Regions from separate parts of the Homo sapiens genome. Here region 2 is linked to region 1. The links come from fine-mapping of genetic effects on gene expression. A gene starts in region 1. The other region holds a variant in brackets. All regions are shown on one strand. Distances are between the middles of the regions. Region 1 holds the start of GPM6B (glycoprotein M6B). Region 2 has its middle 97 kb from the start of GEMIN8.

The links. PIP is the estimated chance that this variant, and not a neighbour inherited with it, causes the effect.
Region 2: its variant is fine-mapped to the expression of GPM6B in sun-exposed skin (GTEx, PIP 0.96).

The regions. Positions count from the first base shown.
Region 1 is chrX:13,814,831-13,820,213 of GRCh38, reverse strand. It overlaps GPM6B (glycoprotein M6B), which reads left to right and starts at 3,121. Exons shown (of 8, transcript NM_001001995.3): 1 at 3,121-3,370. The coding sequence starts at 3,310.
Region 2 is chrX:13,930,347-13,935,729 of GRCh38, reverse strand. It overlaps a transcript of GPM6B not described here. Among named protein-coding and RNA genes, the nearest start is that of GEMIN8, 97 kb to the left of the region's middle. The variant A/G (reference allele first, on the strand shown) is at 2,994.

The DNA of each region.
Region 1 (5,383 bases):
GAGACTCCTGACTAGTTTGCCAGCCTCTAGTCTCATACTCCACCCACCCTGTCTTCCACGTTACCAATAGAATGACCTTTGTAAAGCACGATCAGCTCTGCTCTTGAGCCTTCTATCTCTACCTACTGCCTCTAGGGCTAGCAAGGTGTTCAACCTACCTGGTTCCCAACCTACTGGCTCAGCCATCTCCCTTCAGTCCCTCTGTCAGAAAAATCACTTCCTGACCCTTTGACAGTACCCTCTTTTTCCTCTCATATGCCCTTCAGTTTTTCCTAGAACTCTTTCCGTTCCTCTTTCCTGCTTTTCCCTTCCCTACCCTACCCAGCAGGTTTCTAAGCATTACTGCAATAGCCAACTCAACTCTGCAAAGCTTTTTTCAAATTCTCTTCCCCCTCCATCCATTTTCTTTGTTGTGATGCCATAGTGCTTGTGGCAGGCAGGAGCACCCTGTTTTAGAAGAGTTTTCTGTGTCCCATTAGCCGTGGGTTACCTGGAGACAGGCATCGTCACTTGTGCATGTCTGTGCTGCTTGTAGATGTTGGCACTAGGGAGGTTACTTCATGCATGTTTACTGAGCTGGCTGCAATTATACAGAAGACTTACAAACATATAAGTCAAACCACGTGAAACTGCTGTTCTTCTTGGTCAATATCAGCAATTTCATATGTTTATTCTAATCTGTTTTGTTCAGTATTTTGTATTCCTGTTTTGGCTTTCAGAAGTGTTCTTACCTTCAACCAGACTGCCTTAGAGCATGGGGCTCAAAGAAATATTTTCAGCTCTGGAAGACATTTTCCATCCTACTTCTACATATAGAACTTTTCTGGCCAAAAATGGATGCATATCTCAGAAATGTAATAAGCAATACTCTTCTCTCTTCCTCTTGACAATTGTTTTTCAAATGGTTTATCATAAACATCAGTGAGATCTTGAGGCTGTTATAAAGTGATATAATGGTAATTTCTAGAATTGTAATACATTATCCTAGTGAAAAGAAAATGATGAAGTTGTGAATCAGGCAAAAGTGATGAATTGCTCATTTCCATGTAGTTTTTCAGGTGGAAAGTAGATGCAGGTATCAACTGGAGGATGTGTGAATATTTTGTCTAATGGTTTTGATCTCGATATAGAACTAGAGTTGTTCTTAAATTAAGAATGTCTTTCATATTCTGCCTTTTCACCAGCATCACTATTAAAATAATATTCTTAAGCAACAGCCAAAAAATTATTAGGATCTGCTGGTTCTATAATCAGATGTTTTTGCTGGACACTTTAAAAACCAATAACAGCTAATCACAGTGTCCTCTTTTGTGCTGAATTGAATTTTGTTTTGGTTTTAATTCTCATTTGAACTGCTGGGAAAGCAAGCCTGTTACATACCAACACTTGCCACCTTTCTATATTTGAATGGACCTAAGTAGTCTTTGCAAAAAATGTCTAAGACTGTCCTATCCGGACACACCATAGGGTTTTCCCATGGAAATAATTATATCACAAACGAATCTTTTTTCTAAAGTCTGTGGTTTTAGGCTGCCATACTTCTCAATCCCCTGACCAGGAGACAATAAAATTGGCTGGGGCCTTAATTTGAGGGAATACATATTTGATTGTGGGCGTGGTCTTCTAAGACAATGGTAAAGGGAAAAGCAAGATGTAAAATTAAACGTTGAAACAAGCTAAACTGGTTTTCAAAATCTTCTCGACTGTAACACATCTAGAAGTTCTAAATATAAGAAGGTTTGAGGGATTATCTAAAACCAAGGTATTAAAAGATCAGGTTTTTAGAAGATTTTGATTCAGTACCTTATACTTTTTTTTCAAGGAGTTGAGCAAGAAACCATCAAAACTTAGGAGAGTGATTTTAGGAGAGGGTGGTCTCCAACTTGTCTTTATGTTTGCTTCCAAGATAAGTGTTAAGCCCAACCAACTAGCAGACTATTCATGATCTGGGAATCCTATCAGTGGTCATCCCTGTATTTGACTTGAGTCTCTCTAATTTTTTATAGGGACGGCGAAGGCCAGTTGGTCAGCCAAATGCATAAAAAATGGTGCAGAAATTAGTGATGCTTGGAAACATGGCTCATAATCATGATAAAGGCTTATATGTTGGTATGGGTTGAGAATGTTGGCCTCATGGTATCTGGGTATGCAAGAAGGCAAATCATTATTGGTATACTAGCCTTTATGTTGAATATTTAGAGAGCTCTTGAAAACACCCCTTCGATTTGGAGTGAGGAATTCTAATGAGTAAAACTCCATGTAGAAATAACCATATCCGATTAAAAAACTATTTTGATTTTCATTCCAAGAAACTACCAAAATGTCAGCTCGATATACTTGTGAACATGTTATGCTTATTTTTAAATAAGGAAGGGTGCCTTTTTACAAATTAGGCTTGAGTTTCTCTTACTATCATATATATTAACTATAGACAAGGGAGTGGGTTCTAATAACAAATTGCTACATTGCTATCGTTAAATCCGTGTTTGAGTTTTCTTCCCTCTAATGTATTTTCTCCCCCTCTTTAATTTATATTTTTAAAAAGCAATGTACTTATCTAGAAATTGTATGAAAGACAAATATTTAAGAAAGTAAATAGAGACTATGGGCACGTCCTTTGAATATGTTTTGCCAGGGTCGAGGGGTAAATGAAATAAACTGATACATCATAAATGGACCACACAGGAAAGAAAGTGTCATGCCTATGCAAAGACATGCATTCTCCTTAGAGACGACATATATTGCTGTCGACCAACAAAGTCACGTGGTGGGAGGGGGCTCTTTTCTTTCTCCTTCACATCCCCTCCTCTGATGTCACAAATCTATTTTTTCCTGGGAGAATTAATTAGCATTCATTGGGTGTACTTGGCTAGAAGAAATGAGGTGGGGAGAAAGAGAGAGAGAGAGAGAGATCGAGATTGAGATCTTAAGAAAGAGAGCAAGGAGGAAGAGCCCGGTGGGGAGCAGGTCCTTCTCCCCCACCCCCCTACCCCCAACTCCCACTGGAGCCGCATTGAGACTGTAGGCACCACCGGGCGCCGAATGGCTGTTTTCTAACTGGGATCCTCGGTGACGTATGGCTGCCTGCCCCTTGGCAGCTGTCTTTATGGACCAGTAGGCAGAGCGAAATTGACGCTGACAAGACTTTTGCATCTTGGAAGGGACTGTAATCTACTGTAGTGAAGAACAGAGCCTCTCAATCAGACGGGTGTAAATAAGAGACGGAGGGGAGTCCAAAAGAAAAGGAAGAGGAGGAAAAACAAGTGTGTGTTGGGGGGAACAGGGGGAAAAGCATTTTTGGTGGATGGTATGAAGCCAGCCATGGAAACTGCAGCCGAGGAAAATACTGAACAAAGCCAAGAGAGAAAAGGTACCCAGCGCTCTGACAATAGCCTGTTTAAAGCTTTTCACTGGGGGGTGCTTAAAAAGGGTTAGCTGGGTTTTGTCTCTCTTTTAAAATGGCTCTGAGACAATCCCTATGGCATGGTCTTGCTTTCAGGGTTGATTTTTTTCCTGTGGGCTGATGTTAAGTTAATAGAGCAGCCTTTCTTCAATCCATTCCTGTTCCAAATCTTTCTACCGACGTGATATTTCATAGAGGGATGTCTATAGTTTGTCACCTTGGGCTGATGCATTGGGGAAACTGTCTTTTTTTATTAATATAATTAATCGTAACTTAGGTCTTGTGTCCTGCATGTTATATTCCAGGAACGTGGAATGTGTAGTTTTCTGCTAATGCTGAGGAGGAACTGGAGGGGCATGCATGTTAATTCTGCTTTGGTTCCGCTAATGCTGTAGTGATTTGGGCATTCTCTAATTTTCTTATTCTAATATGATTGCTCTTTCTTGTATCAGGCCCTGACTACGACATGTAATAATCATTTACAGTTGGAGCTTCAGAGAGGGGACATCAGCTCTGTCACCCAGTGCTGATGGAAAGGCAGGGCGGGGGATCTTCTGCTAATTATGACTTGGAGACTGGGGGGAAGAAAATTGATAAAGGTCCTATTTCTTAAAGAGAATCTTAGAACGTACCACAATTTTCATATACAGAATGGTTTTTTGGAGAATAAAGTGTTTTTGCAGTAAGAAAATGGCAGAAAGGAACTAAAATTAATCTCTTTTTTCTAAATAATGACTGATTTCAAGTTTGATGTCCCATAGAATCGGCTCAGCCACTGTTAGGTTAATGGATCTCACTGCATTGTAATTTTCCCTCACTCAAAGTCATAGACTGTCATAAATGCCCAAAAACATATTCTGTAACCGCAGTGGCTCTAATATAAAAAGCCATCATGCTAAGGTTATTTCTCACAGCCCTTGCGTCCACTGATAGTCACTAAAGAGTAATTCGCCAGTACGGGGACAAAACTTCGTTTTATTTATAAAGATACAGGCTGAACCATATGAAATTGCTGATAGTCAACCATTTTAAACCTACAAAAACGGCAATTACATGTACTTCAGCTTCACAGTATGCTGGGGTAAAGACTGCTTGTTTTTATATAAAATTTCTTTGGTACACAATAATATTTTATCCTAAACAGAGCAATTTTACTTTTTAAATTAATTTTTTTAGGTATCACACAATACACATAACATAAAATTTACCATTTTAAGTATACGATTCAGTGGCATTAAGTACATAGCACCTTAATTTTAAAATCGTTTGTTTAGTTCAATCCTCTTACCAAATCTACACCTCCCCACCAAAAACCCAGCCTGTATTTTCTTGTGTGTCTTTAAAAAAAAAAAATCTTCATCAATGACCAAATAGCTATAAGAGAAGCTCTTGGGAATATTTATCAAGATGAAGAAGTGAGATCAAAGTTTTTTCCATGATGACTAGAGACTAAGTTGATTGCATGTTGTCGGGGTATGATAATGTAATAGCATTGTCCCAAGGAAGCCTATCACGATTTTATCCTAAAATGATGATTTTACTTAGTACATACTTTTAATTTTTATTAATGTGGTATTCAACCATGGCAGATAAAACCGTTTTGGTCTTTGCAAAAAAATCCCTTTTTTAAATTTCTCTCTGAAAGGAAGCAAAGGTCATATAACCAATATAAAATCATTACTACACAACTGTGTATCTTATCACTTAGTCTTATGGACTGCTATTATTTTATGTCAATTAAATCTTATTTAATAACAGATCTACAGGTTGCTAGTACATCCCTGACAACCCGTATATGAAAAGTCATTAGTTGTGATTTTAGAGACAAAATTAGAAGCAAAAGATAATTTGTGAAGGAACTTTAAAAATTACCTAAATGTATAAACACTAGCTGCTTGTTAAATAATTCAAAAATATCACACTACCAGAAGCTAGTGTGACATGTATGGTACATGCTTGAATAAGAATACAAGCCAGGGG
Region 2 (5,383 bases), 120 kb before region 1:
TCTGATAGGAACTTGCATTGCCCAACAGAATTTTGATTCTGTTACCTTGTTCATAGGCCTGAAGGCATAGCAATTAAGTGAATTCCATGTAATAACCTCTTATAAGGCATTTGTGGAATATCCAAGCTGCTTTAATATGGCTTATGTATCCAGAGAGAAATGCGGATTTTGTTTCTTTGCCTATAATTGTTTTATTTTTATTTATTTATCTTTTGGAGACAGGGTCTCACTCTGTCCATGCTGTACTGCAGTGGCCTGATGTAATAACTCACTGTGGCCTGGAACTCCTGGGCTGAAGCAGTCGTCCCACCTCAGCCTCCCAAGTAGCTGGGACTACAGGCATGTGTCACCATGCCCGATTAAGCTTTACAGTTTTTTTTTTTTTTTTTTTTTTGTAGAGATAGGGTATTTCTATGGTGCCCAAACTGGTCTCAAACTCCTGGCCTCAAGTGATCCTCCCTCCTCTGCTTCCCAAAGTGCTGGGATTACAGGCGTGAGCCACTGTGAGTGGCCAATTGCCTATCATTTTAAATGGAAACTGTATACGAAATGATCAGATACAACAAAATATTGAAATAATTGTTTCAACCCATTTTGTGGTAAGGAAGTTTTTATAAGGATTATGTATTTAAATGTCAATAATTTCACTAAATAGCATTATAAAAAATTTTGGTCTAGAGCAGTTCTTTTTAATATGTGTACAGATCATCTAGCGATCTTGTTAAAAAAGCAGTGTCTGATTCAGTGGGCCTGGGTGGGGCCTGAGTTTCTGCATTTGTAACAAGCTCCCAGTGGGTGCTCATGCTTCTGGTTCCTGGAGCCAGGAAGCAAAGAAGGCTGTTAAGCAGAGAGGCCCTGGTGCCTGCCCCAGCTTGCCCACTAGTTTGCTGTGTGATCGTGGGTAAATCATTTTCTCTTCATAATTTTAGTTGACTATAAAATAAAAGAATTTGATGAAATTATTTCTTTGGGTCTTTACAGGTCAACCAATATGTAATTTAGAAAAAAAGAAATGAGAGAGTAATGTTATGCTTGAAAACCACGAGAAAACAGCTCCCTGATGGTCTAAACACTACTTGAATGCATGAAGCCAGCATCAGAAGTGTCACCTGTAGTTGGGTTAAATGCTGGCATCTTCGATGTGCATGCTTCCAGTATGATTGGCTCTTCTCCAAGGGAACTGGTGGAGGAAGCTATAATGTTCTCCCTCTTTAACACTTCCAGCTTTGGCTTCTCCTGACCTCTTTTCCTTAAATCCCTTTCTTCCCCGACATCCAGGCTCAAGCCACCCTCAGAGGCTGCACTCAGAAAGAAGCACGCTGAAGACCCATACATGCAATGCTTGGTTCTGGAAGCTTGCTCAGGAATTCAGATGCAGTGGGAGACAAAAAGGAATGGAATCCTGCTGAATAACTGGGCAGGAAGTGATCCCAGAATATGCTAGCTTCCCTCCCTCTGAGTCTAAAGATCTAGTAAGGAGCCCACCCTTGGATCTTGGAGAGAGCTCCCTTTTAATATCGGGACACAAACCGACATTTTGAGTAAACCTCATAGTCGAATACCACGGAGTACTGTTTGTGACAAACAGGAAGTCATTAATTCTTTATTATATTTTTGCTCTACCGAAAGCTGTTGACCAAACCACCTGGCTTCTCCGAGAAAACCCTTATCTGCTACATCCAGGACCAAGCAGCTGGATGGTTTATTGAAAATGCCAAAGGGATCAATCATAAAACGTGCCACTTATGTAGCCTAAACATTTTGTTTAACTTTAAACATTAATTTGCTGATATTTTATTGTAGAGTCAAGGCCTTTGCTTTGAGTGCAAGGACCTGATTGGAGTTCCTAGAAGTCTTTCTTACATTAAATCACAGCCAAAATTCATTGGCTTCTGATTTTCAGCTTCAGATTCTTACATTAAAGTAGAATGAAAACCTAAAGGCATTGGGAACCAATCTCTGGGCAGAATCCCTTTATATCACCTACCCCACTCCCCTTAAACCTTTAAATTTGCCCGTACTTACTTTTGCAACTATTTTCTCAAGTGACTCATTTTTGTTAAGACTCTCCAAAGTAATCAACCTGGTTTTCAAAGAAAGGAAAAAACTCTCTCGTTTGGCACTCCTATTTTATTAGTTTATGTAATATCGAATTAAGTTTCATAATTCTAGTAACAAGTACAACTGGCATAAACAGGTTTGGGAACAAACACCACTGACTCTTCTTAAGTACACTACTTGGGGGAGAAGCAGTACATACATATATTGCAAAAGAGCCTACAACCCAAGTTCTGGACAATGATCAGTATGGTTTAGAAAAAGAATGGAGGATATGGGGTAAATGGGTGGGGTCCTTTAGGTAAACATTGGTAAGAGAGCATCTGCTATATTTTGAGCCATCATCATCCATTTAATAATTTTAACATGATGGCTGGCTTGTTAGTGTTTTTCATATGCTTCTTTCTGTTCAAATACCAAATTTGTCAAGAGCAGAAATCGTTTTATTCATTGTTATACCCCAATGTTCATTGGAATGATTGGCATATTATAGGTGTTACACAAATATTTGTTTAAAAATGAGGATTCATATGCATTTTATTAAGGTCTGTCAACATTAAAATTATAGATTTCAAGGTATTTAAATTAACATTGATGTACTGCAAACTCTGGTAAACTATGCTAAAATAGGGTAAATTACGTAAATTATTGTTCTTTAATAATAATACTTTTATCACAGAATAACAATTTCAGAGCTTGAAGTTGCTTTAGAAGTAATTTGATTGCTGCCAGGCATACAGACACAGAAACAATTGAAAGAGCAGTTTGGATGTTCTTTCATTAGCTTTTTTTTTGCCTTGAGCTTTTTTTCTTCTGCTGCTATAAAATACTTTTCTTTCTCTGGTGAAAAGTACTTCCTTCTCATCAGGTTTTTGAAGTTCTGGAAAGATTGGGGTTGAAGGCTTTGTTTCCCTGAAACTCATTATTGCCCTGAG[A/G]ATTAAAAGGCAATGGCAGCTTTGTGTTTCCATCCTCACCATGTGTATTAGGGTTAAATGAGTACCTACCACAATATCATGCAACTAGCATGTGCCAGTCTCTAAGCCTTTGAATTCCTGTCACATGTCCATCACCATGGGGCTCTCAGGGGAGTATTGGACAGCTGCTCACTCAGCAAGCATTCACAGAGTCCTGTTCAGATGAGCCAAGTACTGTGCTAAGTCTTGAAGCAAAAAATAAACAAGACTCTGTTCTCAAATAACCACAGTCATTTCTGAAAGGCAGATAAACAACTATAATAAAAGTACAAGATCCTGTAGGAAAAAGAGTATCTGTCTGAGGAAAAAAGCGGGGAGGTGGTATTTCAAAGAGGGATTCCCTAGGGAGGCAGTTACTTTAAATCTGAGAGTCTTCAAGCATGAGCAGGAAGATAGGGGTCAGGGTGTCCAGGTGTCTGGGAGAGGATGGTCCAGGCCCTGGATACAAATGTGTAAAAGCAGGAGCCGTGGCAGAGGCTGCTGTGTGGGTATGTTGAGTTGGGAATGGCCTCAATGTGGGGGAGTGGGGAGAGCTGAGGCCAGATTGTAAAGTACCAGGAAATAACTTGGTCATTACCCTGTTGGTCACAGAGAATCAGGAAGGGATTTTAAGCAGGCACATGGCAGCTGGAGGGAAATGACAGTCTCCCCAAGGGGATAAAAGAAACCCACTGAGAGAATCGTTTGTGTCTAACTATAAAATTCCAGATAAAAGTTTAGAAGTTCTGATAAAGGTAAAACCTTGTGGCTTATATGAAGTTTCCAGTGGTGACTTAGATTTGAGGAGTGTTGAGAAGGGTGGAAGGGATTAGGATAACCCATGAAAGAGAGGTAGGAGTGAGCAAGGTTTGTTGGGGCAATTCTGAAGAAACTGACCTGGCCATAGCAGAGAGTAGGTATGGGAGAGAGTAGGAAATACGATTTGGTCAGGGAACTGAAAGCCAGATGGGAGTAATGAATTTTAGTTGATTACAAATGGACACATATAAATGAATCTTACAAAAATGTTTTTTTGTAAGTCCATTGTTTCATCCCTTTTGAGAAGGAAGGGAAGTATTAGCTTTCTGGGATGGAAAGATATTGGGGTGATCTTTGGCATGACTACAGAGGGGTTGAGGATTGGAACAGAACCAACTTCCATGTCTATTTATTTACTCGATTATTAATTTTATTTATTTATTTTTCTTTTTTTCTTTTTTCTTTTTTTTTTGAGAAGGAGTCTCACTCTGTAGCCCAGGCTGGAGTGCAGTGGTGCGATCTCGGCTCACTGCAAGCTCTGCCTCCTGGGTTCACGCCATTCTCTCGCCTCAGCCTCCGGAGTAGCTGGGACTACAGGCGCCCACCACCATGCCCGGCTAATTTTTTGTATTTTTAGTAGAGATGGGGTTTCACCATGATAGCCTGACCTTGTGATCCGCCCGCCTTGGCCTCCCAAAGTGCTGGGATTACAGGCATGATGGATTATTAATTTTAAAAGTGGGATTTGTTGTTGTTGTTGTTTTGTTTTTGTTTTTTTGAGACAGTCTAGTTCTGTCACCCAGGCTGAAGTGCAGTGGTGTGATCTCAGCTCACTGCAACCTCAGCCTCTTGGGTCCAAGCGATTCTCCTGTCTCAGCCTCCAAAGTAACTGGGATTACAGGTATGCACCACCATGCCTGGCTAATTTTTTGTATTTTTAGTAGATACAGATTTCACTATGTTGGCCAGGCTGGTCTTGAGCTACTGACTTCAGGTGATCTGCCTGCCTCAGCCTCCCAAAGTGCTGGGATTAAAGGTGTGAGCCACTGTGCCCAGCCATTTTTTTTTCCTTAAATATTTGCAAGAATTTACCAGTGAAGCCAGTTGGGTCTGGAGTTTTCTTTGTAGAAATGTTTAAGTTATGAAGTGTATTTCTTTAGCAGAGGAATATTCAGACTTTCTCTTTGTTTCAATTTTGGTAAATTGTGGCTTTCAAGGGCTTTGTCCATTTTATCTAAGTTATTTGTTGGCACAAAGTTGTTCATAATATTTTGTATTATCTGTTTAATCCTGTTATCTATAGTATCTGTAGTGATGTTCCCTTGTTCGTTTCTTTTTTTTTTTTTGAGACGGAGTCTCGCTCTGTTACCCAGGCTGGAGTGCAGTGGCACGATCTCGGCTTACTGCAAGCTTCACCTCCCGGGCTCACGCCATTCTTCTGCCTCAGTCTCTCGAGTAGCTGGGACTACAGGTGCCCACAACCACGCCTGGCTAATTTTTTGTATTTTTAGTAGAGACGGGGTTTCACCGTGTTAGCCAGGGTGGTCTCGATCTCCTGACCTCGTGATCTGCCCGCCTCGGCCTCCCAAAGTGCTGGGATTATAGGTGTGAGC